Linked DNA regions of Homo sapiens. The protein of the gene in region 4 interacts with the protein of the main gene of each other region in a biochemical or structural test. Each region holds a gene or a part of one and is shown on either strand. Other genes may lie near its edges.

Region 1 (8,266 bases), on a different chromosome or scaffold from region 4:
GCTGAGAGTTTTAATCATGAATGGATGTCAAGTTGTACATTTTTCTGCATCTATTGAGTTGAATGTGTTCCTCCCCCATTGTATTGTTAATTTGGTAAATACTGAATTTTTAAAATTCTTATAGTAATTCATTCTTTAAAAAAAAAACTCAACTGTGGTAAAATATACATAATATGAAATTTACCATCTTAACCATCTTTAATACGGTTTGGTATTGTTAAGCATGTTTATAGTTGTGTAACCATCTTGTTTTTCATCTTGCAAAACTGAAACTCTATGCCCATTAAACAGTAACTTCCCATTTCCCCCTCCCTGTACTAATTCAGTTTTTATTTTACAGATGTTTGTCTGTGACAAATTGGAAATAAGAAAGTGGTCCTTCACTACGGAAATTTTTAAAAGCAGTGTTCTAAAGTTGTCAGTTTATCAGTAAAAAGCATTTTAAACACATACTTGGCTTGTAAATTAAACTCTGAAGCTGTACACACAAAAAACTGAAGTCCTGGGAGAACAAACATACCTCACTAGCGTCCTGGCTGATGGTTTTTGATTGCTTCGAACTAGATACAATCACACTGTGTATTTTTAAAGCCATTTATTTCTAACCATAACTTCCTATTTAAGCATGTCAATCAAACTTTCATCATTGCTTCACCATGAAGGCAGGCATGAATCACTTTTTCCTAACCCTTTCCATTCTTCTATATTCTGATTCTGGCTGAAGCAACCTGCTGATAGCCAACATGAACAGGTGATTTTTTGTTTGTTAAAAAAAAAGGCTTTATGAAAGGTTTACAATTTAGCAATCATCAGCTTGCCTTCTGACAGCTTCATCTGTTACTATTCTAAAACAACTTGGCTTTGTAGATGGAATTTCATTAATTTCCTCAAAGAGATGAACCTACTAATTTTAGTTCAGTGAAATATGTTCTTCCCAAATTGACAGCTTTTAAGTTTAAAAATGCATCGGAATCCTATGTACAACGTATCATAAGTGGACTGTCAGATTACTATCCAACAAAATATCCTGGGGATTTAAGATTTTGTTTTCAGGAAAAAAAACTTTTAAGCAACACAGAAACATACTGTATAATAGTTTTATTTTTCTCATTTTACTATTTTTACATTTTATGCACAAATATTTATCTGCGTAAAAATAGAAAATAACTGTTTTATGTAAAATTACAAAAAAAATTAAAACCACAAAGAAATACATAATTGTTATTATGACAGTATAAGTGTCGTTGTCGTTATTTAAAGAGTAAAAATGTATGCAAAAGTCCTCCTCCCATTTACAAAAGATTGAGAATTTTGTTTTTCCTGGCAGCAAGTGAAATATTGAAGTATCAATATTTTTACACCCTTTAGATCTGAAGACATTAAGTTAGTCACAGATTTGTTTTGCAATTATGAATTTTAAAACATTTTTGTGCTATTTCAAGGATACACTAGTTCTTTCTTAAAGGCAGTAGCATAAAATGAATATGGAAAACAGCAGACCTCACAAAAATATTTGGTGGTACAATTCTTTTTGTATCATACTTGAATATCACCATTAATCAGGGGAGAAAACAACTAAACAATTTTTCCTAATAACATAGACTGATACAAAAATAACTGTGATCAGTCAATTTATCTGAAGATCAACCACACATAGCAATTCTGCCTCATTTGTTTTTCTGATGCCAACACAAATATTTAGACTTTAGGCTAGCAAGATATGTATGAAAGTTGGCTCAATAAAAACTTCACATGGAAAACAAATTTTAAAACAAAAATGAACATTTCTTTTACTTAAATTCTTGTACTTCTAAGGTACAAATGATGACCAATAATTTTATCTTTCTTCCTTTGAATATACTGTAAATTCTATGAAAAATTCATTTATAAAAACAAAGCAAAGAATAGCATAAATTTTATTTTCTTTCACAATGTTATATTTTAATAGAAGAAAAAAACTACCTTTCTGATAACTGTAACCTAAGTAAAACAAATATTTTACATATAATTTGAGGCAAAGTAATGAGTTTCTTGAATCAACTGGAGAAATTAGTCACATTACCTATGTCATGCATAAATGATGGTAAGAAGAAAAAAAAAGCATCTGATCATGTATGAGAACTGTCTCTGTTCAAATTATGAGAAATAAAATGAAAATTGCTAAAGGGAGAAAATGAATAAAATATGATTTAAAAAAAAACCATATGGGAATTGCATAGATGAGAAAAAAATTTTCATTCTAGGGATCTAAAAGTAATGTTTTTAGCTTTAAAAACATACACACACATATATAATTGAGACATGTCTATCATCTTGGCTAAAATTTTAATATATGTCTCCCCAAAAGCATTTTAAATATGAAAGCCAAGATTCTTAAGCTCTTGATGATATACCAGAAGGGTATACTTTATTATTTTTTTAAAACTACAAGCAACTTGTCAACTCTCTAGGCCGTAAGAGGATGGTGCAAAACCTTTCTTGCTGTCTATTTGTTACCTGACGTTAGAGCTTCTGTTTATTATTTCATATTGTTATTTTACTCAGATATTCTTAAAACCACAGTGCCCAAATTGTACTAATAATCTGTCCATATATTCTCTTTCAAAAAAGTAAAAATGGAAATACAAATCTTACTCTGCTCAGATATCAACTGCAGGAAGAGCTTAATAATATGAATGAATTGAGAACATGTTTTAGTAAAATTATGCATTAAGATTACCAGAGAAAGAGATCAAAGATCCCTCCCTCTCTCTCTTCTCTTCCTTGTCCTTAAGATCCCTGCCTCTTAGGATTCATTCCAAACCACTACCAGAATTGCTAACAATGCCATCTTGCCTGTATTATCATGCCTTTTTCTCCTAGTTAAGTCAAAAGCATTAACTGAGCTCTTAAGAAGCTTTTTAAGAGGACAGATTTAAAGAAAACAATGAAGGAGAAGGTGCATAAATATTTGAGAATCAACTTTCTCAAATCTGTAAGAGGATTAATAGCTATCTGCCAGTCTCATGTAATAATTCGTGCTTAATACCTTAAACAACAAAGAGAGAAAAGAAAGAAAAAGACATTTCTAGCCATTTTTGTTTAGTGTTCGCTTATGTAAGGAATGTCATATATGCAGGAATTAGTTAATTTGAATCTTAAAATGAGTTGTTTAATAATTTTTCTTCTGTATATCTTTATGCCTTCATATGTTTATAAAATGATCAACTGAATATGTATACAGCTATATGAATACACATATATAATATGGAAAAGGAAAACAAGTGGAAAAGTATTGTCTTAAAGAGAAGACTGCCTATAACAAAGGTCGTATTTTCCTTTTAAAACTATTTGCAAGTAATTTACTAATGCCTTGAAAGGTAAAGTACTACTGACTGATTTAAAGTCTTCATTTTATCAGAAACAAAGGAATATAAGCTGCTTTGCATAATAAACTGGCACTACAGGGTAATTTTTTAAAAAAGGAAGCCATAACAAACCAAAACAAACCTTTATTTTTGGGTTGAGGTATACCTTTTCAGTTTTTTAAATCTCTGACAGGAAAAACAGAGATCATTTTATAATTTTTATAACAGCTGGTTTATTAGAATTAAATGCCTCTCTCAAAATAATTTAAATTCTTGGTCTGACATGAGTAATCTATACAGAAAATCCTTAAAATTGGCTTGAGTTAATAAGCCAGATTTAAACCTGGATCTCCTCCTTCAGCACTGCTCTTTTGCCAGTCAACTTCTTACTGTCCTTTGCTTGCAAATATATAAATAACCTGATACTCTTAGTTTAGTAATTTATTAATATAAATTTATTCGGTATGAACATTTTAGCTCTGCTTGATTAGATGAAACAGGCACACATGCTTTAGCTGAGAAATTCCATTTTCTGGTTCTATGTAAAGCAACATCTAAAGCAGCAGAGAGGGGAAACAGTTATATTTTCAAAAATAGTTAAGCCAGACTGTTTCCTAGAGATACTTCATTTATTTTTCATTTTCAGATACTACTGGCTATTTTTGGTAGGGCTACACATTAATACTGACCAGTTTAGCCTTCCTGACTGTTAAACTATTCCACAATGAACCTGCCTTCACACTGCAGACATTGTGGAGATCCTTTAACATACACATATTCTAAAATATATGCTCAAAGTAAAAAGATCCAAATTCACAAGAGTATGAAATATTTATAAAAAAATCATGCATCAGACTGTACAGCCTAGAAATAAAAGAAGATTCAAATTCAGTAATAAAGGTAAGAGCTATACTTGCTCTAAACATTTTAAGAAAGACTTTGGAGTCTCAGAATGTCCTGGGGCTCAATTATCCTTTTCCGTTTGCAGAGAAGCAGTAGCCAGAGCTACTGCTGTGACTGGCTGGGCAATTCCATGGAGCTGCATCTTTGCAAGTTTCTTCTGTTCACATTCTGTGACCAAACGGTTCAACTCCGCTGCACTGTATCCAATAAGAGTCTTCAAGTCACAGACAAACTTGTACACAAATCTCTTGCCTTGAACTTTACAAATCATGTCCCCATCGTAATAATATCTTCAAAAAGAGAAAAAAAAATTAGAGACTTCAGAAAAAATGAGACTTCTTACAATAATTTACAGACTATTCCATAAGCAGAAGCCTAGTAGAGTACTGCATCCGCCACAATAGCAATTAATATTGAAGCTATGTAGAATATTTAATGCTACTATCAAATGAAACATCCCAACATTATTTACTAAAATTTCAATGCTCACTACTCCAAAACTCTATACATTAAACTTTCAAAACATATTTTCAACAATTAGAATAAAACATTGATTTAAAAATAATTATTAAACAAAACAAAAAACCTTGAGAGCAGTAGAAGAGCCTAAGAACAAGAGCTTTGGAGTCAGAAAGCCAAGATTCAAAACCTAACATTTTTGAGACCACAGGAGTCATATTTTCTCAAAGCTTTTATTCCTCATCTATAAAGTGAGGTTAACAGTGCTTATACCCTCATATCATTGTTGAGGATTAAAGGGATAATCTTTGTAAAGTGCTTAGTATACAATGACTGGCACACAGCCCTCTACAAAATATAAGCTATGTTAATAAAAATCGATAATATAAAAAAAATTAATACATATATTCCACTTCTTTTCTGTCTTGTAAAGAATCCTATATGATGAAGTCATGTCTTCATCTTTATTATTTCACTATGTAAACGCTTTCCAAATTTCAGATAAATTATCCAAGCCCAATAGGGAGCTTTAAGTCTAAGGAAAAGGTCTAAAAGAAACAGAGGATACAGAAAAACAGGTAAAGGACATTGCAAAGAGACAATGTTTCTAAACGTACACAAGCAGAGTTCCGGCAATCATTCTAGAAATCTAGTTTACTGCTGCATTCTATAGAGATGCAAATGGAGCTGGATTTATGTTTCCTTTGGAAAACAGACTTTATTTAAACACACACTATGTATTGCTAATTCCAACAACAGGAAAAAGAGGCAAGTCAAGCTCTTTCCACGACTGGCAGATTGCAAAGCCCTTATTTTAAAATTGCACTGCCCACTGACAAAGGGCTATTATAAAAGAAACAACTATTTGCAAAAGTACCAGATATAAACTATCACATTTAGCAGGATAAAAGTCACTTGGCTTAATCAAGAGTCTATTAATGAAAGGACTGACCTATATACAGGAAATTGTCATCTTTCCCTAATTCCAGAATAGCAAAAGAAAAATAGTTATGTTTGATTTCCCAGTAAGAGATATAACACATTGGGCAGTCTTGTAGTTTCCATTTATGTCAATTACATTAGTACAGAATTTGGATTTCAGCTCATAAACCAACAATTCCTTGCCATCCAGTTAAAAATGCTATAGGCATATCAATTGCTTTAAAAAATTTCTACATTAATATGTAAGACTATACGTGGGGAAAAAAAGGAAAATGGAAAAGGAAAGAGGTTTTATAATTCTAGGAGGAAAATGGAGTTGGCATAATCATATTTCTTGGTAAGAGGTGATAAAAAAGAATATACACACATAAATTTGAATTTTACTGAATACTTCTTTTGATCTAGTAGATGCATCACACAACTGTATATAGTAGCATTTATTCCACTTGTTGCCTCCCTAAAATGAAAGATACACAATACCTGTATTTCATGGATATGATTTCTTTTCTTCCCTCTTTTTTTTTAAACTTGTATTTTTTTAAACTTTTTAATTGCAAATATATCACACAAACAAAAGGACACAGAAGTGAACAGTTCAGTGATTTATTACAAAGTGAACATTCACTCACCTGTTAAGTATCACTCAGGTCAAGAAACAGAACACTGCCAGCATCTAGAATCCCCTTTATGTCCCCTCCCAATCACTCCCCAAATCCTGGCTCTAAAAGGTAAACACAAGCCTGTATCATGATAGTAATTTGACTGCTTTTTCTTTATATTTTTATCACCCAAACATGCATCCCTAAATACTGAAATTTAATTTTCCTGTTTTTTGAACTTTACTAAATAAATGTAATCATACAGAATTTGGTCTTTTGGGTCTGGATTCTGTCACTGAACATTATGTTTGTGAGGTTCACTGGTCATTGTTTGTAGCAGGAGCTTAGTTTTCAAGAATGCAAGGTATTCTTGTATGAATATACCATAAATGATTCATTCACTCTACTGTTGATAGATATCTGGTTGTTTCTGGGGTTTGGATGTTATAAATAATCTGCTATGAACATGTGTATGGGCATAGAAGTACATCTCTGTTTGATGTGTATGAAACAGTTGCTTAGGGGAGCAACTGTTACAATTTACATTCCTATCAAAAGGGTAGAAGCATTCCCATTGCTCCATATCCTCAACAGAGCTTAGTTCTGGCAATCTTTTAAATTGTAGCCACTCTAGGGGGTGAGTTGTACCATTTAATTATGGTTTTCAATTGCATTACTCTGAATACTAATGAGGCCGTACACCTTTGCATATATTCATTGGCCATTTGGATAATCTCTAGCCTGAGGTGTCTATTCAAGTCTCTTGCCCATTAAAAAATTGATTTGTAAGAATTGGTTAGATATTCTAGATACTTCTGTCCGACATGTGTGGCTCTCTTAATAAGGCTTTCAACGAACAGAAATTCCTAATTTAAATATAGTCCAGTTTATTGATCTTTCCCTTTAGAATTAGTCCTTTTGATTCTGTTTAAATGTCTCCCTACCACCAGAAGTTATGAAAGTATTTCTAGATCCTTTTCTATTTTACTTTTTACATGTAGAGCTACAAGCTACATGGAATTGATTTTTGGTACGGCATAAGCAAGAGGTCAACTTTTACTTTTCCCCAGAGATGGAGAGTAAATTATCCCAGCACTGATTATTGAAAAGCAGGTCGTTTCCTCATATGTTTTCTCCCCACTGCCATTTCTTTAAATCAAATGCTTACATATTCCTGGTTCTATTTTGGCTCCCTATTCTACTGTATGGCCTATTTGTCTTGAGAAAATAGCATAACTGTCTTATTACTGTAACTTTAGAGTCAGTCTCAATATCCTGTGGGACAAGTCTTTCCACTTTGCTAATCTTCAGGTGTCCTGACTACCATGGTACTTTATAGTCCCATGTAAATTTTACAATTATCTTCTCAAGTTCTATGAAAAACTTAGTTTGATTTTTCAAATTAAACTAAGTTGCTGCACTGAAACTTAGATCAATCTGGGGGGGAACTGACATCTTAATTATTAACTCTAACAATTTACCTGTAATTTTGAGGGGACTTGTATGTATACAATCTGTATCAACTCTCAAAAATGGCAGCTTTAATTATGATTATAAACGAAGAATCTTTAGACAGTTGGCAATGTGTTTGAGACTGAATGGTAAAGGATAAGCATTTTGAAAACTAAACATTTTAGTTACTCATGAACTCTGAGAAAAAAAGGGTCATTCAGGAAAAGAAAAATAATCACAGCCAACTATGTAATAATAGTTACATGGCCGTAATACTGTAACAATGAATACTCGCTGAACCAAAATTTCCATATAATTATATTGGGATACTGAGATGAAGGGATGGAAAGGGGAAGGGAGAGTGTGTGTGTGTGAGCTAAATTATAATCTTTCAGTGTGAAAATGGCCAAGTGAAACATGAAGAAGCAGTAAAAGCATGCTATTTAGAAAAACTCGTGAATTGCAGAACTATTTTACTATATTCAATCTCCCAAAAAATCAGACATAATTCCGTGATATTCTTATATATCCTTCTTCTCAGATACTTAAATGTACCTGTTGAAT
Region 2 (6,184 bases), on a different chromosome or scaffold from region 4:
ATGCTGTCAAGTTATTTGGCTAGAAAATCACTGAACTAAACATTCTTTTCCTTCTATGATCTATGTCTTAAGGTGAAGTATTAACTAACTTTTCCATGTAAAGCTATACAAATATTGGAAAATCTTTTCTAGGGAGTCCAGAATACTAAGGGTTACTTAGTAAAATGTATAAAAAGGCAACAGTAATTCAAATTACAAGATTTATATTTGCAGAGGTGATCCATATATACTTATCCCCTTGCAGTGGCTGGTATGACCTTTGGTTGTAAGACAAACTTGCCCACAACAGAGGTCAAATCCATGCCTTTGGAGATTAGCTCCATGGTGGATGGAGCTATGGTTTATGCATAAAGTAAATGTTTGTTTACCTTAATTCTCCTTATACCCATATTGTCCTGCTGTATAACACATTTTGCAGATATTTTGAAGTTAATGTGTTAAAAACTTGAGGTTAAACATTTGAGTTTTTGTTAAGAGCCAAACATCAAATGTGCCCTTATATTTTTAATGAATCTCATCCAAATGCTAATGCATAAACCTTGACAAGTAGTATAAATAAAACAAGAAAAAAATACAGCAATGTCTTTGCCATTCCCCAAAACAAAGCACACACTGCCGAAGATCATTAGTACTCACTGGTAACAAACTACATAGGGTTAGTTTGTATTTCCAATTCTAGAGCTGTAATTTTAAGGACAAAATGTACAATGATTGATTAAGAGTGCTATCTGTGTATATATAGGTATTATCACAACTCCTTTTTTTCTTCCAGATGAAGAAATTAATTGGGACCAATGTTTTTAGATCAAGGCATTTTAAATAAGCACTCTTGATTTCTGAACAAGAATTTCAACCAGCTAAATTGAGCAAAATAAAGTTAGTTAGGATATGAGGACATTATTCTGTTACAGTAATCTTCATGTACTCTCAAAAAAATGTAACACTTGCATAGAAATGTCACAATTAATGAAGGATTTTATTTGAAGATAAAGTCAAAATTATGGCACCGAGGAAGGTAATAAACATTTGAAATTTTTATTGATTTTTAAATTTAAAATCCAGTTTTAACCACAAAATTGTTTGAATCACAAGTGGTAATACAATGTCTTCAATATTTTTCTAAAGTTATTTTTCTATATAATAATAAGACAACAGCATAGCATATAGGAAGTTTTCATTCCAGTGGCTTTTTTATATATTTATCCTTCTTAGGAAGGACAAATTAAATTTTTTAAATTAAACTTTTAAAATATAACAACATCTAACAGAACTGTACAAAACAAAGAGACATTTTTTAAACAACTTGCCAAACTTACTTATGAGTGTGTTTTAAAAACAACTTTGTAAATGTCTGGGCAAAGAAGCAAGCTGTCCTCCCTTTACCTTCATAGTGAGTTTGTAAGGCTTTGTCTTTGTAAGCAGAAAGAGTAGACTGTGTTGTTTTTTGCCAAAAACTGTTTATACTTAATCTCACTGAAGTATTGCTATATGGAGAACCCATACTCTGATCAACTTGATTTTTTGTGTGTAATGCTTGATCTACCAGGTAACTTCCCAACTGCTCCTAATGCTAGCGGGCTAATCCCACATTATTATTCCACTATCATCCCTGCAGAAAGGTCTTGGTTTTGATGAAAATCAGCCCTTTCCTTACCTGCTACTGCCTCAAAAAGGGACCAGGAAGATTCTAGCTGGCTAATTCACTGTTCCCTTTGAGCAAGAAAACGGCACAGGGAGAAAAGGACTTATCTGGTGAGAGATTTGGCATATACCTTCAATGTGTGCCCTATAACACAACATTGTCTCCGATCTCATCTTTCTATCAAATGACTTCCAACACTCTTAAGTCTCAGGTATTCTTAAATCTGTATCATCAAACATGAAGCTTCTCTTGTTTGTTAGAGTAATTAATCTTTCTTTGGATTAAAGTTTCCCTTTGAAATAAAACCACCTACCTAATCTGACTGCTAAATTTCTAGCTTCTTTGTTTTAAATATGCTCAGGAGTCAACCCAAATTCTGCAGCAAATAAGTTTGCTTATTAACAAAAAAGTAAAAAAAAAAGAAAAGAAAAAAGATGACTAATTCTACAGATAGCTGTAAGGATGAATTACTCAAGTTCAAAATCAAATTCTGATTCTAAACACATAACAATTGTTTACATTCAGGATTAAGATGTCTTTAAGAGTTGAAACGACTTTGGAGATCATCCAGCCCAACTTCCATCCAGATATCACGCCTCTCACATATAGTAGTCTTCTGAATTATAAAAATTTATAAAGTTACTTCCAAAAAAAGCTACATAAATAAAAATTATCTATTTATAGAAATATCTATTTAGCAGTTCCATAATTTAAAATATTCAAATCAAATTGGGTAGGACTGGTTTGCCTCTCACTCCCACAGACTATATTTATACCTCAGACACAGCAAGTTACATTTAAACAATGAGTGTAGTACTACTTAACTAAAATGGAAAAAATAGTACTCTTAACATAATCCCTAATTTTTTCATGAACATAAAACTCCAAGTCATTTATGTGAACTATATCTCAATGTAGCTGTAGGAAAAATAAAAACCTGTGCTAACCTGGACTTTGGTCTCATTTAAGATTTGGTTCTGGAATGCAAATATGGTTTTTGAAAGCCCAATAAAATTAATTCTTGTATAGTCTGTATATATTGTTTACAAGGACTACAAACACTGCATCACAAATCGGAGGCTTTGGTAAATAACTAAGTGTCCAACATAGAAAATAACTATTTGGTCAAAAGTATAAAAGGTCTGACCTTATTTGAAATACGAAAAAGCTGAGTACTTGGAAGATACGTGAAAATACTCAGCATAGATATTATGAAAAGCTGAATAACAAAGTAACCTTTTTTCTCAAATTATTTCAGGCCACAGTATATAACGGAACTTATTGCTATTTGAAGTTTCATTAAAAATAGGTTCATATATAGAAGAAATTGTGTCAGTAATACCTCTTCACTAATATAAAATATGCCCCTTTTAGAAGACGTGTTCTCTAGATCTCATTTCTAAAACTCTGTATTTTTCTCATTTCTAAAACTTAAGTATCCAATCAAACTGACCTTACTAAAATCCCACAAATTATAAGTCAATTAATGTTCTGATTTCATTAATTTTGGCTTGTTTCATTTCGTCAGCATTTGGTTTTTTAGTTCCAAAGGCTCCTGCTGCAAGTTCTCTCTTTTTGTTTTGTATTTTCAGCATATTTTCTTCAACAGAGTCCTTTACAATGAACTTTAAAAAGAAAAAAAAAAGTTAAGTAGTTTTTAAGGCATAGTATTTAAAATCTTTATTAAAAAAACTAAATGAAAGATTTGCCTAATGGCAAAAACCGCAATTACTTTTGCACCAAACTATAATAACTATTTAATAGAACTGAACTTTGCTTTCCTTACCCAATATGGTTTTCTTATATAAAGAATATGGCTGTACGAATAGAAGTTACAGATCACAAGATAAGCAAAGCAATAAAGAAAAAAAAAGCAAACTATATAGGCAACTCTGGCAAAATGACTTCAGCATTGTATTAAAAAGGCCATTCTGGCCGGGCACGGTGGCTCACACCTGTAATCCCAGCACTTTGGGAGGCCGAGGCGGGCAGATCATGAGGTCAGGAGATCGAGACCATCCTGGCTAACACGGTGAAATGCCATCTCTACTAAAAAATAGAAAAAGTTAGCCGGGCATGGTGGTGGGCGCCTGTAGTCCCAGCTACTCGGGAGGCTGAGGCAGGAGAATGGTGTGAACCCGGGAGGCGGAGCTTGCAGTAAGCCGACATTGCGCCACTGCACTCCAGCCTGGGTGACAGAGCGACGTCTCAAAAAAAAAAAAAAAAAAAACAAAAAACTATTCCCAGAAATTCAAGAATGAATCTTTAGTATAATTCACAACACTAACAAAGAGAAAAATAAAACGTGATCATCTCATTCCTGATAAAAACTTGATTTTAAAATACCCCAACTAGGAATGAATGTCTCAACCTTACATATTTAATGTGAAACAATAAAAGTATTCTACAACAAAACAGAAACAAGTCAAGAATGGTCACTATCTGCTACTATTTAACATTGTTTAAGAAGACCCAATTACTGCAATAACTAAAGCTATATAATAAAATTTTACTGAAATACATATAAGATCTACATAAATGGAGAAAGGATACTATGTTCCTGTATGGAAACATTCGTTACTTATAAAGAAAGATAGTTCTCGAAAGTAATAATAAATTCAATAAATCTCAAGATATCTTAAATGGGATTTTATAACTAAAATCTAAAGTTCAATTCAAGAGCAATAATAATAACCACCAATACAATTTTCAAAAAGGGTCATCAGAACATTTTACCCTATCAGGTATCAAAACTTACTTTAGGAAACCATAGTTGTTATAAGAGTAATACTGCCCTAAGAAAAGGAAAAGAGATCAATGGAACAGAATAGTCTAGAAAAAGACCCAAGTAATATATATAAATTAGTTTATGATGAAAGTGACATTTCATACTAGTAGGGAAAAAGTTGGAATTTTCAAAGAAAAAAAATGATGTGACAGAACAAATCGTTCTTCATCTGATAAAATAATAAGCTTAGACTCATGTCACAAATCATAAAACAAAAAATAAAATCTTCCAAAAGAACCAGAAGTAAATACAGAATAGTTGAAAAAATGTGAAAATAAAGCCTTCTGTCCTAGGTAAGACCTTAAAACCTAGAACGTATAAAAAAGGCTGACGTTTTAAATCATAAAAATTTTAAAGCTTTTTCATGACCAAAAAAATGCAGTTTAAAGACAAGGAAGAGTATGGGATAAACCATTTTCAACATACATAAACAAAAGATTTCAAGTCAGACTGTATCAGGGAGTCCTTTATACTATAAAACTATTTGTACCATAACTATGAGAACTGGACAGAAGATATAAATAATTCACAGAAAAAATGTTAATAAACAAGATATGTGAAATATACTCAAGGTTTTAGGTAAATGCAAATTAGAACAGCACTTTTTTGGCCACAGAAGCATAAATTAACAATTTTCATATAAATCCTATTTTGAAACCAACTCGATAGTTGATAAAAATTCTAAATCCAGAATTCTAGTTTTCTTAACTTATCCCAAAGAATTACTTGCATCTATGTGAAAAGATTTATATATAATAATGCTCATTATGGCACTGTTTTTATTAGCAAAAAACTTAATGGGTTAAATATATTACGATATATCTATATGGTTTTGTAGAGTAGTCAAATTCAGAGAAAGAAAGTAGAATGGTAGTTGCCAGGGGCTGGGGGGAGAGGAATGGGAAGTTATTATTTAATGGATACACAGTTTCAGTTTAAGATGATGAAAAAGTTCTGGAGATGGATGATTGTGATGGCTGTTGCACAACAACATGAATGTACTTAATGCATCTAAACTGTATACTTCAAAATGGTAAATTTTGTATTTTACCACTATTTAAAAAAAGTGTTCATCTAAATGTACTTATGAGGTAGTCTCCAATGTATAGTTTTAAGGGAAACAAATATGTTGTAGAATAAAGTATAATTCCATTTATCTTTAAAAGAATGTTTTTAAGGAGATGTACACATAACTATAAATGTAGGTGCAGAGAAAGGCCCCTTAAACAGCATATATTAAATTATTGATGAAGGAGGAAAAAGGTGACTTATATTTTGCTCTGCATAATTACACTCAATCATAATAATATATTCATGCATTACTTGCTTAATTGTAAAAATCGTATCAACCTAGTCTTAAAATAGTTTGTTTAAAAACTCACTTTTGTGATGATAACTTCTTGCTTCTGACCAAGTCTATGGCATCTGTCAAAGCACTGATCTTCAGCAGCAGGATTCCAGGCCTAACAAGAACATGGATGAGTTACTTTACTACTGCCCTGATCTTTCAGTGTTTTGCATTTGTCCTTTCATTTCACTAGTATTCATTCATCTTTTTCTGACTGAAAGTTTTCTGCCTGAAGTCAGATACTAACATCACAAATACTCTGGGGAAAAATCCACCCTCCCAATCACTATGATGATAGGCATCCTCCCCCTACTACTACTTCTAATACCTAATACAGGCCCCGACATATGTATCAGCACCCAAAATAAGTATTTGTTGATTAATCAATTTGGTTTTTTTTTTCATT
Region 3 (8,054 bases), on a different chromosome or scaffold from region 4:
CCTCCCAGGGCTGCTGTGCAGATTCAGTGTTAACCAATGTAGGGGTCGGCACGTGGTCAGTGATTGGGAAAGGAGCACTTACTAGACCAAAAGCTGCCTGAGGCTGAGACCTTGCAATGGCCGGCACTGCCAGTCACCAAAGGTGCTTCCCCACCACCAGCACAATTCCTCCTGGAAGACCACAACAGCCTCTACCGGCCTCTCTGCCTCCCATACTGTTGCCAGGCACCTATGGAAAAGTCTATCTGACTGAGCCGCTCAGTGTTTAAAACCCCTCGGCTGCTGCTCATCCCTGACAGGCCCTAGGCTCTTGGCATGGTGCTGCAGGCTCCCTTGGAGCTAACCCTTGCCCGTGTCTCCAGCCTCCACCCTGCCCACCCACTCCCTGCCCCTGCCCAAGTGCCACCTTCATGCCTTGCTCACACTATCCCTTCTGCCTGGGATGTCCTCAACCCTTTCACTCCGCCGCCCCGTTCTCCCTGTCTTCAAACCATACTTTAAGTGGCAGCCTAGAGATAATGTCATAAGACACCACCCCCCAGCCACCACCCCCAATACAACTCCCACTCCCAAGCTAGATCAGATGCCCCCAGCACATTTTATGTATTTTTCTGCTCATGGATTTATAGTTTTGGGTCTCCCCACCCACCCATCCTCACCAGATCCTTGAGGGGTGGAATTGTGTCTTATTCATAGCAGCACAATGACTGGCTCAATATTTATTCAAGCCATATCTATGGTTTGCAAGAATAAATGAGAGGCTAGAGGAAGTGAATTTGGAAGCACTGCCCTTCAGTGTCAAAGACCTGGATAGGTGCCACCTTACCCAGGAGCAGGACGTGAGAGAAGAGCTTATGGCAAGCTGGGGCAGGGAGTGTCCCATCAGTGGTGACCAAACCTATGGGTCCATCTTCCAGAGGCTCAAGGAACTCCAGGGTGTAAAACTATGTAAAATTAAGTTACACCCTGGAGTCACAGCCCTCCAGCAGCATCCCCCTCCCACTCCCAGCCTGTTGCAGCCAACAAGACCCCCACAGACAAAAACAGCTCTCTCCTGTCTCCTGGGCAGCAAGCTTGGAGACATGGCCAGTTCTTTCCCTGGCTAAGGGACAGGGGCCTGGATCATCTAATTCCTGAAGGCAGCACTACCAATTGCAAGGGCCCTTGGCTCCTAAGCTGTTTCTCCCCCTCCACCCATTCCCAGAGCTTCCCACCTTCTATATCAAGACAGGATGGATGGGTTCCCCCAGGACCAGCTCAGCCAAAATGGAAGGACTTTGCCCCCAGCACAACAAGGTGGGTCACCCCATATCCTACACATTAGACGTACCTTTCCCAGACCCAAGACAAATGCCATGTTCCCCAGAGGAAGAGGGAAAGGGGGCGGGAGGAAGTCTAGAGCAAGGATTCAATGGAGAAGGAGAAACCAAGAGGAGCTTTGAGATCAGAATTAAATTCTTTAATACAAAATGCTTTTTTTTTTTTAAGATATATCTGTATTTCTTTGTCGTTGTTTAAAAATAAATATGTACTACGGAATATCTCGAAAAACTGCACTAGAGACAAAGACGTGATGTTAATATCTTTTCCCCACAATTATTACGGATAAACAGTAGCACCAATAAATAAATGATAACAAATATTAAAATTAAAAAAGGAGAGAGATTTAGTATGTAGAATTCTCTATTTTTTCTTGTTTTGTTTTTACATATAAAAAACAGAATAGCAATGTCTATTTTATCAGAATCACATATATACATAAACATATATATATATATATACACACAAATACAAGTTGCCAAATATATATATAGTATGTAGATGTATATTGAAACCTTATTTCAAAGGAATGTGTGCTGGGGAGCCAGGGGATCGGGGAGGGCAGAGCTGAGTGTTAGCAAAATTAAATATCTGTTCAAGATAAGCTAGTGACTGTCACCGATCAGGGAGAGAGAGATTGGAAACATGAATTTTATATACAAAAACCGGTACAAATAAGAGAGCAAGAGAGAGCAAAAGATACATCTCATAAATAGTTGAAATTAAATATTAACCAAGAATACTGAAAAAAAACCCTACTCTTTAATTAAATTAACTGTTTTAATTTCTAATTAAAAAGGGATATTAAATAAGTACCGTATATAAAACACTTTCTCTTTTCTCTGCCTCCACAATGGGCACGTGGATCCTGCCCTGTCTCTCTGTGCCTCGGGAAGGGAAGGGAAGGACCAGGGGATGGAGGAAGGTCAACCACTCACACACACACAACCAGGTCTCCTGGGGGGACAGAACTAGTGGTTTCAATGGTGTGAGGACATAGGTCCTTTTAGGCTGCACCCCAGGAAGGGGAGCAGGAAGAGGATGAGGGCGAGTCCCAGGAAGGGGAGCTGTCATGGGCTGCTTCTTCCAACAATGTGTCTCTTCTCTTCGCCGGGACATCTGCCAGTGGTCTCCTGGGCAACTCAGAAGCAGGTGAGAGTAAGCGAAGGCCGCCCAGGCTCCTGAATCTTCCAGGCAGTGCCCCTGGGGGCGAGATGCGCGTGCAGCATGTGGAGGGAATCCCCAAAGCACAGCAATGTCCTGAAGCTCCCCAAACTCCTGGTCAGAGCCGGTGTCCTCATCCCTGTACCTGTGATCTGTCTTTCTGTCCGTCTGACCTGGGGTAGAGAGGCTCAGCGCCAGGGCTGGGTTTGTCGGTGTTCCCAAAACTGGGTCATATTTGCCCCCATGCCCTGGCCTTGCACATTCCTGGGCAGGGGAGAGGACCCTGGCCCCACCAAGTGGGACAAAAAAAAGATCATGCCAGAGTCTCTCATCTCCTCCTCTTCCCTGTCAGGATCTGAGTGGGAACATTCCCCTCCCAACTCAAGTCCACAGCAGTCAAATACATCCAGTGAAGACACCAATAACATTAGCACTGTTAATTTAAAAAAAGAATATATATATTTTATATATATAAAATAGAGATATTTATTTTTATATATATATAATATATATATATATAAATGTATGTATGTGGGTGGGTGTGTCTACAGGAATCCCAGAAATAAAACTCTCTAATCTTCCGGGCTCGGTGATTTAGCAGCAAGAAAAATAAAATGGCGAATCCAATTCCAAGAGGGACCGTGCTGGGTCACCCGCCCGGGAATGCTTCCGCCGGAGTCTCGCCCTCCGGACCCAAAGTGCTCTGCGCAGAGTCTCCTCTTCCTTCATTTCAGGTTTCTGGATTAAGGACTGTTCTGTCGATGGTGATGGTGTGGTGGCGGCAGCGTGGTTTCTGTATCGATCGTTCTGTATCAGTCTTTCCTGGTGAGAGATCTGGTTCCCGAAACCCTGAGGGAGGCTCCTTCCTCCTGCCCGGCTCACCGCCTCGGCTTGTCACATCTGAGGGAAATGGAAAACAAAGGCTGGGGTTAGGGCCAAGTGAGGAGGCCTGGCGATGAGGCAGGCGGCCTCCCCATTCCTGGGGGCCCCTGGGTCACTGCAGCCTCCGGCACCATAAGAGCAGAGAGGACAGGAAGGTGTGGTCCTGGGGCAGAAAGCCCCAGTATGAGAACAGCCCCAGCCCTGCCCTCAGGGAGCCCCGGCCTGAGCAGCAGCTCCACTCAGGGGCTCCCAGTCTACCCTCCTGAGCTTGCAATCTACTTGAGACAAGACAAGGACATGGGAACACTTTACAAAGCAACAAATGAACGGATACCAAAGAACAGTCCCCACTTGACATTTTAAGAGCTGATGGGTGACCAGAGCTGGATGAAGTTAATCAGAAGAGGCTCCCTGCTGAGGAGGGTTTTCAGTTCAGTCTCTAGGGGCTGGTGTGGGGAAGAGAGTGGGCAGATCTTCTGGGAGAACGCCTGAGGCAGAGAGGCTTGGCCGGGTGACCAACAATGGCAAGGGCCTGCCCTGGGGACAGGAGGCTCCCGAGGGGGTAGCGTAGAGCAGGAGGCCCCAGGAAGGTGAGGGACCATCTCCATTCCCCATGTCCCCTCCCACTGTGGCTGTAGGCCTCATCTCTCTTGAGCTGCCTGGAGGTTGCAGGCCCAGGTAACAGGTTGTCTTTCCTTTCAAATATGCTGCTTCACTTAGGATGGGGAGAGACAATTCGGCGGCTTCACTACTCCAGCTGAAGCAAAGGGGGCCTCCAAGAACTTTCTCAGCATGCCCCTGCCCCTGGGTGATTGTGAGAAGGAGGCAGAACAGGCCCTACCCTTCTGGGGAGCCCCGAAACGGAGTCCTAAGCCTCCAATTTTGGAAACTGATATTCCCAGATACAGCCAGCTTGGGGGTTGGGTAAAGGTATTGGGAGGTTAGAGTAACTTCAGTTAGCTCCCAGGTCACTTCACACAAACCCCCATCAGCAGAATAATCACCTAAAAACCCTAAAATGTCAAGTCCCTTATCTTTCCCAAGGACCCCTGGGGAACTGAGACTCCCCTCATCCAGCCCTGAAGTTAGGCAGAGCCCCCACCCCAGCACTAATATACGCCCTCTTGGTTTCACATAGGGCCAAGACAGACAGCACCCCACACCAACTACCCAGGCCTGGTTCCCAGCATCCCCTGAGCACACACAAGCCACAAGAACATTGCTGGGGGAGGGGAGACACTCCAAGGACTTCCCTAACACAGCCTCGGGGTGAGCTGGGGGTGCCTTGGCCCTGTCTAGGAAATCCCCACAAAGTCTTGCCTCCCTGACTGACGCTTACCCTGACCCCCAGGGCCTCCCTCACTCTGAGCACAGGCCAAGTTGGTATAAAGAACATAAGCTAAGGCATTAAAAGATGCCAGCCACCTGTCCCGACCCTGTGCTCCTGACCTCACCCTCTGAACTGAGTCACACATTCACTCATGCACTTGACACTTCCTTGGTCCCCAGTATGGGCAAAGGAAAGAGGTACAGATGCCCGGGGCTCACAAAGGTACGTAAACGAGGCCCGGGCTTACGGAGCTCACAGGCTAATGTCAGGAGAATGGGCACAGACCCCTCCCTCCACGCATCCTGGGGGCACTTGAAAATGTGTGGGCTGCTTGGGGTTGTCACCATGACTGGTGGAGGATTAAAGGTATCTAGTATTCTTGGATGCTACAGCTCCTTCAGTGTGTAGGCAAAAGTGCCCCATCCTAAACGAACAGCCAGACCCCTTGCCCTCAGAGCCCCAGTCTGAGGAGGGAGACATAGCCCTGGCCTGAGGGAGCCTCAGTCTGAGCGGGGAGACAGCCCTATCAGGGAGCCCAGGTCGGAGGGGAGAGACACAGCCCTACCCTCAGGGAACCTCAGTCTGAGTGGGGAGACACAACCCTTTCCTCAGGGAGGCCCAGTCTGAAGTGGGAGACTCAATTCCTTCCCCCAGCAAGAAACACTGAGTGAGTGAGAAGCCCAGCCATGCAGACTTCAAAGGGCCGAGGCAAGGCCCCAGCGAGAGCATCTGTGCTTTGTTGACATTGTCCACACCTGGAATCGGCTTTCAGCTTCTCAGCATTACTACCAGAGGTAGTAATAACATCAGGACCAACAGCCACTATGAGCAGAAGGACCACAGGACACAACACACAGCTTGCGTCCACACCACTACACTAAGCCACACCAGCCTACCACTCAGGCAACCAGGGCAACCTCGGAACAGGCCCCGCCAGGCTGGACCAGTGCCTGCAGCCCACCACAGGGGCCTTAAAAGCAGAGAAGGCAGCAGTCACCAGGCAGGCAGCTAGAAACTGAGCAAGCAGCTGGCCCCTCTCAGGCGCTCTCCCGCTCGCTCGCTCGCTCACTCTCTTTCTCTCTCTCTCTCCCCATCTCTGTGTGATGCCCCTCTCTGACTTGCTTGCCCTCTGGGAACCAACCTGCAAGTACGTTCGTTTAACTCAAGCTGCCTCGCCTTGCAACGCGAGTCTGTGTTTTTGCAGGAACATTTACACGTCTGCGGATCTTGTACAAACAAATGCTTTCTCCGCTCTGAGCAAGGCCCACAGGGACTGCAAAAAGGCAAAAGGAAAGACATCTAAGCTAGAGCATCAGCAGAGAGAGAGAAAAAAAATCACCATGCAACACCCCCTAACATGTCCGCAGCTGCACCCCCACCCAGCCGGTCAGCCCCCAGGCCCTGGAAGGATCCGAGCGCTACAGCAAAAGACAGAGAGAGCGGCGGAAAGAGGCAGCACTGGCTAGGACACCTGCCGCAGGAAGAGGCGGGCACAGACGGGCAGAGAGTGCAGGGAGAGGCTGCCATAAGGGGCAATGCTGTGTCTCTGGGAGACAAGGGTGAGTCTCAGGCCACAGGGACCCAACTGCTGTTGCCCCCATCGGAGCACGCCTTGACTCTTCACCTGCTGGGGATGGCAATCAGGGGCCACCTTCTCCCCGTGCAAGGCTCATGTCCAGGCCCTTCCACCAAGGTGGGCTAAAGTAGGGTGTGATGGGAGGCTAAGCCCGGAGGCGGTGTCCCCAGGCCAGGCCGCTGGTGGCCAGAGGGCCCAGGGCAGGGCCCACCACAGCCTCCGACCCAGAGGAAGAGGCTGCCCTGCAAGGAGGCCTCTGTGGGTGCCATGGGTTGGGCCGGAATAGGGGGCTCCCCTCCAGAGGCCCCACCTCCGTGAGGAGCCAGGGCACTTCCACCAGATGAAGGGAGGCCGCCACATGGTGTCTGATCCCACCCAAGCTCCTCCTTCAGCCAAGGAGTCATTCAGCAAGCTGCCTCCAGTCATTCACAGCCCTTCTTGGGCCATGTCTGCCCTCCCCACCACCCTCAGCTTCCAGACGAGTGCAGAAGCCTAGAGCAATGGAAACCAGTTGGGTGAGCAGGCACCTGTGCCAACATGGGCCCGCCACCAGTGCCCAGTGGGTGAGAGAAAATCGGTGCCCAGCCAAGCCAGGGTCCCCTCCCTTAATCCTCCAGGCCAAGTCGGCACCCCCATTCACCCCAACCCTGGACCAGCAATGCCACCACCAAATCTACCCGTTGGTGCCAATTAGTGGAGTGAGAGAGTGAGAGAGAGACACGGGCCAGGAGGATGAGAGCCAGGGAAGGACCAGGGGAGGGAGGCAGGGTTACAGGGAATGGCAGGCGGAGGTTGTACTGGGGGCCAGGGAGGCTCCAGGGCATTAGACAGCAGCGGGCACCAACGTACACGCTCCAGGACTTATACCGGGATTTCTTGCGCTTTCGTTTTTGCCCCTTTCCCTTTCCTCGAACTGATTTTCTGGAAAATAAAAAAACAGAGACAGAGAGAGAGCGGGGGCGGTGGGGGGAGTAAAAGAAGTGGTAAGGTGGGCAGGGATGGGGGAACGACCAAAGCAAAGCCACACAGGGCCGCTTCCCGGAGGAAGTGTCAGGAGGCAGGTGGTCTCTGGGGAGGCATGCGCGGGCGCACACAGGCGTGTCTGGGCAGCAAGCACTCGATGGCTCTTTCTTCTCCTCACGCTGCCCACCATGGGATGGCAAACCCAGCCCCTGACAAGGCTTTGGTGGGAAGCCGAGACTGGGTGGAGGGCACAGGACCCAAAGGTCTCCACACTCACAGTGGCTCCCAGTCCCCGGCAGGGGGCAAAGCCTGAGGGAAGGCTCTTTGCCCAGCAGCCCTGTCCAAGTCTGACCCTGAAGGTCCGGGGGTGATAAAAGGTAGGCCAGACTTTGGGGAGAAGGTCAGAGACCTGCCTGGATGGGGAGCAGGAGTGGGAGGGAGGGCTGTGTATCAGGCCTTGTGCCTTCATTTGCAACTGCGACAGAACCTCTGGGAATCCCGGTGTGGGGGAAGCGGCTACCTTGGGAGCTGGCACGGAACCAAGAGCAACACCAGCCTGCTCAGCACGACCTGGACTGGGAGGCAGGGCTGGGTGTCCTGGAGCCCTGGGCAGGCAGCAGGATGGGGTGGGAGTTAAGGAGGTCTGGGGAGGAGAGGCTTGGGCGGTACTTGGCAGGGAGTTCTCTCCCCAGCCTGTCAAAGCCTGCTACACCATCTCACCAGACACTCTTCCGAGCCCAGGCGAGCCCCCTACTCTCCCCATGGCAGAGCAGTCATTTGGGGAAACAGGAAGGGGGGCAGGCTGTAGCCTGTCCCCTT
Region 4 (8,277 bases):
AATTTTGGGTCTGGCATTTCTGCAAGCCCCAAAACTCATATATAACTCTTGTAAGCAGTAATACTGGCTATATCACAAATCCAAACACTCAGCTAACAGTTCAATGGTTCAGATTGGTTCAGATGTGGTGGTCGTAAGACTGTGCTGATGTCCTCCTATTTTCCTGCATCATCGTCTCATCTCCGTAAATCTTCATTTAAGTCATACCTCAGGATAACAAACAGCAACAACTTTTTGTAGCTCCCCTTTAACAAAAAAGAGCCCTACTCCAGGCTCTTGTTTTCAGCAATGAATCTAACTCTGGGTTTTTCTGCATGTAGGGTACTTTTATCTATATTAATAGCTAATTAAATAGGATGTAATTCTTGACCTAAATACTTAGCAAGTATAGGAAGTCCTTATACCCTTATCCAAGGTTTTGCTTTCCACAATGGTTTGTTACCCATAGTCAATCACAGTCTGAAAACATGAAATTAAAAATTCCAGAAATAAAGACTTCGCAAGTTTTAAATTACATGCCATTCTTTGCACTAAGAAATCTCATGCTGTCTCATTCCATCCCACCTGGGACATGAATCATTCCTTTGTCCAGCCTATCCACTATACATGCTACCCACTCATTACCATATAGTAAAAACCATAGTGTATATAGGGTTTGGTACTCCCTGAGGTTTCAGGATCCACTGGGGGTCTTTGAACTATCCCTCACTGATAAGGGGGGCGACTATTCTATTTTCATCCTCCTAAAACTAAAAATTAAGCAATATTGTAAAAAGTGTATATGCAGTATAATTATGACAATATTTTAAAATATATGACACTAAGTCTTATTCCTAAGAGATAAGAGAAAATTTCACTTTCTACATTAAATATTTCCATAATGTTTTTGTTTTCCATATCAAGCCATGTATTACTTTTGTAAGCAAATCAACTTTAAGTACAGAAAATAAATAATTATAAGTCTCAAAATTAATAAACCAAAAAAATCGTTGGAAAATCAGAATATGAATAGGTTTTCCCCAAGCATTAAAATAAAAATCTTAATTTCTAAAATTTAAAGACCATAGCATGCAATACATACATGATTCACAAATGAACAGGAACTCAGACATAACCAAGCTAAGTGGTATGATACCTAAATAAACCATCCTCAGGTTATTTTTGATAAGACAACTTTAAAGTCTACAGAAAGCAACAGTGTAAAAGTCTTACACAACAACCTTTTATGTTGTGTAAGAGGGGCAAAAGGAGATCTACCAATTACTTAAAATCAGCACAGATCATAGTCATCACATTTTGTCTATTCTTTTTGTAACTCTAAAAAGACCACATTTCCATCATACACTCTACTTTTCAAGCAATAGGGTTGGCCTTTTAGCAGTATTTGTGCATTTCTATAATCAACCAGTTCTGACAGTGATCCCTTAGGTAAAATCAGTAAGGATTTATCTTTCACCTTGTTAGAATCACAAATAAAAATGTTTCAGAAGACATTTCCTCCACTTACCATGTAGAAAATACTTTATTCAAGGCTAGTATTTTACCCTCAAAAAGGAAAAAAAAAAAATCTGAAATAAAAATAACCAAAAAAAGGGAAGAAAAATACAATACTGATATAAATTAAAGAGCACACTGCCAAGACACTATAGGAGAGTGAAAAGAACAAAGCCTAGTTGTGAAGCCTTGGGCCAGTTACTTTCCTATCCAACCGTGAGAATAGTAAATAGATTAATGTAAGAAAGAATTATATGAGATAATACACCTAAAAACACCTAAACAGTACCCGATAGAGTAGGAGCCCATAAGAGATCCATCCCTCTTTCGCCTGTCAATCTTTAAATACTTAAATATTAAGTTAAAAAAGCCTGCCTTTTATAAGGCTTCTATTTTCTCAAAAAAAGATAGCTACCAGTTAACCTGCAACTATCCAGTTTTTCATGAATAATGGGGAATTCTAAACATTAAGTTGTTTGCTTTTAAGAAGAAATGACTTCTATAAACTCTTCTTCCAACTTCAAACACCTGACTCCATTTTAAATGTGCCCAGTCTTGAAAGATTAACTGTATTTTAGATAAAACAAAATCTGACAGAGGACTAAAATTTGAGAGACTGAATTAAGTCTTGGCTTAAATTTGGGGGAAATTTTGACATTGGAAAGATACATAAATTCACACTTTGCCTCCTCTTACCCAGTTTCAAATATACAGCAACGATAAAGTAAAAATGAGACAACAATGAAGTTTCCTAAAACAGCATGCATTTCTCAGTGGGCCACAAATGGACAGAAATATGTAAGATTAGTAGGGTTTCAGCTTGGCGCCTGATGTTTCCAGGAAGATGGAGATTTGCCTTCTAAAGGATAAGGAGTAGTAAAAGTACCCCAAAAAAGAAGGGAACAAAGTCAGACTTACTGCTTAATACAGGCTCGAGTAGAGGTCATTTTTGTTAAAGGGGTCCTTTAAACTTAACAAAAACAAACAAAAAGGCAAGTTCCAGAGCCCTGGTTTAAAAAAAAAAAAAGTACTTTCTCCTTTATTTTGGGAAATTGTTACATTAATGTCATGCTTATCAAAAGTAAAGTGCAGGCTAGGCACAGTGGCCCATGCCTATAATTCCAACACTTTGGGAGGCCAAGGCAAAAGGACTGCTTGTGCCTAGCAGTTCAAGACCAACTTGGGCAACATAGCAAGATGCCATCTCTACAAAAAATTTAAAACTTAGCTGGGCATGGTGGCGCTAGCCTGTAGTTCTACACATTCAGGAGGCTCAGGCCAGGAGTTTGAGATCACAATGCGTTATAATCATGCCACTGCACTCCAGCCTAGAAAACAGAGACCCTGTCTCTTAAAAAAAAAAAAAAAAAGTAAAAAAGGCAAACCAAGGATGTCAAAGTTTTCAGCATTTTCATCTGGGCATACTACACGTAACACTGAAACAAAAATGTTTTGCTCTGATTTTCTAGTGAGAAAAAGCATCTTAACATATCTCCCTTCTTGCCAATTAGAAAGATAGTATACCAAGAGAAAGTTTATATCCTCAAAATGAATTTATTACTAAATATGCTATGTCTTATACAGCATTTTTATTCTCACTTGCTTTAACTTTTACTTTCTCAAATAATTTCCCCGTTCCTTTAAAATCAGGACAAAATTCAAATTTAATGGCTTTCTGGAGTATTTATTTTACCCTTCCTGGGCAACATTCAATAAACTAAAATTCCATTTTGTATTCAATATACACAGTGTTTCTATTCTGATAACATTTGAAAAGAAATTACTTTACTGAAGAACTTGGTGCTTTATACCAACTTCATTTCATGACCAACATAAATCCACAAAAATCAAAGTTTCTAGATTTATTTTCTAACACCTATAGAACGCTGTAACATTAATTTTGTACACACATTAAAAACTAGTTTCTAAAAACTATCTTTTATGTCTTCAGTAGTCTGTCACTTAACTCAAACCTTTTAGTCTCAGAACTCCTTTCCAAACTTACACATTACTGACGTTCACAAAAAACTTCTGTTCATGTAGTATATGTGTATACTGATACTTACCATATCATAAACAGAAATTTAAATTTAGTTCATTTAAAAATAAATCCATTACACGTTAACATAAATTAACATTTTATGAAAAACATTTTTCAAAACAACAAAAAAAGTTTAATGAGAAAACCATGTTTTACATTTTCACAAATCTCTGTAATGTCTAGAGTGAATAAAAGAAGACATTTAAAGTCTCAGATCTGCTCCTGCATTCAATCTCTTGCAATATGGTTCGGGCTGAACCATATGAAGAGTATCTACTCACGGATATCTACCTGGAAAGGGCAAGAATAACTTAATATCCTTTCAGCCAATTGTGGGTTTTCTTTGAATACTACACCAAACTTAACAGGTGGCAGTTTCTTCAAGTTCAGTCCAAATGTGGAATCTGACACTACCTGTAAACTTTCTATACTGTTATTGGTCTATCTCGCACTTTGAATGGATCTTTTACTCATGCATGATTTTATAATATAATGAGTTGGTCATCTGAAAACTGCCGGTTCACTGAACTATCATACAGATCTTCCAAGTGTTAGCACATTACATTAAAATACAGTATCAAAAAAGCTTTGTTAGTATCACTATCCATCTCATCAGAAAAATATTAAGAAGGTATCAAGCTCATAATAGATTTGAGTTTTCTAAAATTCTAATTTTCACTGGAAAGCACAAATTTTGTCATCTGCAGCAGCAAATGCTTTCCAGTTTTTTTCCTTCACATGACAGGCTCACTTCATTTTTTTTTTTTTTTTGAGGAAATATCTGTCACTTAAGTACATTAATCTCAAGACCACAGTTTATCATTCTTTCAAGTAAAAACAGTATTTGATGAAAATAGCATCTAGTTCAGCTTGCAACTCACAGAACTGCATAACTGAGGGAAAAAAGTGGTTTTTTAAAGACAATTCTTATTTTGATATGCAGCAAAAATGCTTTATTAAGGCATACTTCCCATTTCATCATAAATACTACTACAAAGATATGCAGTAGGAACTACAAACCAAAACCATAAAAAGATACCACTTCACACCCACTAGGATGGCTGTAATCAGAAAGATGGGCAATAATAAGGTTGGTGGCGCTAGAGAGAAATTGGGACTCTCAACACATTGCTGATGAGAATGTAAAACGGTATGGTCTCTTTGGAAAACCGGTTAAACCCAATTGCCATATAACCCAGCAATCCAGTCCCAGGTACATACCCAAAAGAAAACATTTCCACACAAAATACTACCTACACAAATGTTCACAGCAGCAATATTCATAATAGCCAAAAAGTGTAAACAACCTAAATGTCCACCAGTAGATAAATAAAATGTGGTATATCCATACAGTGGAACAGTATTCAGCCATATATAAAGAAATGAGGTAATGACACATACCATGACACAGATGAACCTTGAAAACATCATGCTAAATGAAAGAAACCAAACACCAAAGGCCACATATTGTACAATTACACTGATACGAAATAACTGGCAAATCTGAAGGGACAGAAAGTAGCATAGTGGTTGTCAGGGTCTGAGGGGAAGTGAATGATGAGTGACTGCTAAAGGGTATGGGTTTCCTTTTGAGGTAATAAAAATGCTCTGAAATTAGATAGTGATGATGGTTGTACAACTCTATGACCATAGTTACAACCAGTGAATTGTATAAAGAGTGAGTTTTACGGTATGTGAGTTATATCCCAATAAAGCTATTATTTTTTAAAAGACATGCAGCCCTCAAGGGTCAAGATTTAGTAAATATCTTTTCTTACTGGTTCATCGAGGTCATTCTTGAGTGAAACTGGGATTTTTCTTTAACTGCAAGTGCATGGTCATGAAGAATACAGCAACAACTATTACAGTTTGCTGTCACTGCCTTGATTTATGCTAAGACACAAGCAGTTTTATCCACCACCACTGAAAGTGTCAACACAGAGAACAAGGCAAACAATTTCTTAGTGCAGCTTGATGTGAAGGACCTCTGAGAGGGTCTCAGGGATATCCAATGGTCCACAGATCACATTTTAAGAACTACTGTTCTAGGCCAGGAGCAGAGCGGTGGCTCACGCCTGTAATCCCAGCACTTTGGGAGACCCACACCTGTAATCCCAGAACTTTGGGAGGCCCACACCTGTAATCCCAGCACTTTGGGAGGCCAAGACAGGCAGATCACTTGAGGTCAGGAGTTTGTGACCAGCCTGGCCAACATCTTTACTAAACCTCATCTTTACTAAAAATACAAAAATTAGCCGGATGTGGTGGTGTGCACCTGTAATCCCAGTTATTCAGGAGCTAATCCCAGTTACTCGAGAGGCTGAGGCACGAGAATTGCTTGAACCCAGAAGGCAGAGGTTGCAGTGAACCAAGATCACACCACTGCACTCCAGCCTGTGTGACAGAGCGAGACTCCATCTCAAAAAACAAAACAAAACAAAAAAAAAAACAACTACTGCTCTAAACCAGTTTCAGAAATCCTAATCCCAACCCCTAAAAAAAAATAATCACAGCTTCAGAAGGCTTAAATGCAATTAAAGGATTTCCAAATACGGATCTGAGGTTCTAAGACCATTTCAATTTTCTAAGCATGTATCACAAATTTATCAAAAGAAAAAAGGTAATCTTTAAATGGTGATGGGAGTTATGTCAATCAGTTCAGTTAAAGTGTCCCAATTTAAGAGTTTAGAATCACTGACCTGGTGAAAGAATGTTAGTAGTACAATCTCCACAGAAATCCAAATACAAAACAGAATTAAAGTAATAAAGTTCAGGATTTACTGCACAACAAAACATTCAATCAAATGTTATCTAGACAGACAACATTAATAGGGTAAAAATGACACTATCTCTTTTTAAACTTTATTATTTAATTCTTACACAACATTCAAAGAGCAGACTTCAGAAATGTCTACCCATACTATTGACAACTATTTCTAGCACAGCTAAGTTTAATGCCCACTATCACAGAATCAAAGAATTTTTGGTCTGGAAGGTCACCTAGACAGTTACCTAGTCCAACACCTCCATTTTACACAACAAGGAAACTGAGTTTGCGAAAGAAAAATAACTTGGTCAAAATCACACACCTAGCAAGTGGCTGAGGCATATTTACTCCCTGTACCATGTTTTCACTATACCAACCTGACTCCTCAACCAAATATAATGCATAAAAATTTTAATTCACATCACACTAAGGCCAACCAAGACACCCTACCTGCCAAATAAAAATTTTATAATGCCTGACAATATCAATCAGATGTCAAAACAAATATAAAATTAAGAAAAAACTATAAATGTTAATTGGCATAATAGAAACATGAATCCCTAACTTCAAAAACTACAAACTTTCAAAGAATAATTTGGAAGATACTTTGATGTCTACTTTCATACAAACATATTTTCATACAAACATTGATCATTAATTCTAATGTGAGTCTGATGCTGATAAATACCTAAAGCAAAAAATTTCCCTCTATGTATTATCACTGAACTTATTTATGGCATGACATAACTTAAGACTCACCTGCAGGACTGTCAGCATTCTCTCCTGGATGTAGCTGTATACCAGCAGAATCTATAGAGTTCACTGTAACTGTTTGTAGATTTGGCAACTGACCAGTGCTTAGACTAACTGGAGTTGAAGTGAAGGCTCCACCTGCCGCAACTTGACCAAGTGTGAGGGTTTGAACAGGCGTCAAAGTTATTTGTTGGGCAGCAGTATTCTGTATTTGCAAATTCTGCAAGTTCTGGACCCCTTGTACTTGAAACGTTTGCCAAGTTACCTGTCCAGAAGGGGTCACTGTCTGTGCCTGAATTAAAAAGGTTCCAGGATTCAGCTGCAACTGAAGATTTTGCAAAGCCTGTTGTGATATATTTTGACCACTGGCTTGCACACCATGGATTGTCTGTGGTGTAATACCTTGCACAATTTGGGCTTGACTGGTTGGCTGCTGAGACTCTTGAAGTTGTAGATGCTGTACAACAGGCTGTGCTGTAGAAACCTGAATATTCTGTGCCTGTGTCTCTTCAGAAACAGGCGACTGGATATAATTTCCCTGAAGATCTGAAGAATGAACCTGCCCACTAGATGTAGTCAAGCTATTTGTGTTTTGTTGTAATATACCTGTACTATCTATCGTAACAGGCAACTGTGATGAAGAGGATGTTGGCACAAATAAATCTGTATCAGTATTAGTTTCATTAATATCAGGAGAAACCCGCTCACCAGTCCTTTCTGAATTGTCTGAACTATCCATAGCTTGTCCTGTGTTTATCAAATGTCCGTCGGCATTAATGCCTGCAGTCATTGTCTGAGAACTGCCCGAGAGTCCCAAAGAATCTAGATCGACACTATTGATTGGTACAAACGTAATATTTCCTGGCAGACCAAGAGGCACATTAGCAACTACTTGGGTTTGACCAGGAAAAGATGAACCACCAATTGCAACTCCCTGAACCTGGACTTGACCAGTCTGTGGTATGAGATTCTGGATGTTAGCAGAAGGTGTTCCAGAGGCAAGTAAGGTTTGATTAGAGCCAGGAATGATCTGAATTTGACTGCTTTCTTGATTTATACCCCCATTATCTGAAGAGCCTGTGAAACCAATTTGAACCTGCTGACCATCTGCTGACTGGATCTGTGGTATCACTTGATATTGAACACTGGACACTGTACCATTTGATGAATCTGATCCTGGTGCAACGGAAAATATTTGTTGATTCTGCAAATTCTGAAGGGG

The links.
Region 1: the proteins of SP3 (region 4) and GABPA form a complex in vitro, tested with the Homo sapiens proteins (one study listed by BioGRID and IntAct).
Region 2: the proteins of SP3 (region 4) and HLTF form a complex in vitro, tested with the Homo sapiens proteins (one study listed by BioGRID).
Region 3: the proteins of SP3 (region 4) and VEGFA form a complex in vitro, tested with the Homo sapiens proteins (one study listed by BioGRID).

Annotation. Positions count from the first base shown.
Region 1 is NC_000021.9:25,765,278-25,773,543, reverse strand, and holds the end of GABPA (GA-binding protein alpha chain), read right to left. Parts: intron 4,541-8,266; coding exon 4,312-4,540; 3' UTR 1,084-4,311; downstream 1-1,083.
Region 2 is NC_000003.12:149,029,106-149,035,289, forward strand, and holds the end of HLTF (helicase-like transcription factor), read right to left. Parts: intron 5,894-6,184; coding exon 5,813-5,893; intron 3,268-5,812; coding exon 3,115-3,267; 3' UTR 1,022-3,114; downstream 1-1,021. UniProt on the Homo sapiens protein: Has both helicase and E3 ubiquitin ligase activities. Possesses intrinsic ATP-dependent nucleosome-remodeling activity; This activity may be required for transcriptional activation or repression of specific target promoters.
Region 3 is NC_000006.12:43,779,871-43,787,924, reverse strand, and holds the end of VEGFA (vascular endothelial growth factor A, long form), read right to left. Parts: intron 7,194-8,054; coding exon 7,122-7,193; coding exon of another isoform or gene 7,071-7,121; intron 5,970-7,070; coding exon 5,838-5,969; intron 3,385-5,837; coding exon 3,363-3,384; coding exon of another isoform or gene 3,297-3,362; 3' UTR 1,438-3,296; downstream 1-1,437.
Region 4 is NC_000002.12:173,947,812-173,956,088, forward strand, and holds part of SP3 (transcription factor Sp3), read right to left. Parts: coding exon 7,062-8,277; intron 1-7,061. UniProt on the Homo sapiens protein: Transcriptional factor that can act as an activator or repressor depending on isoform and/or post-translational modifications. Binds to GT and GC boxes promoter elements. Competes with SP1 for the GC-box promoters.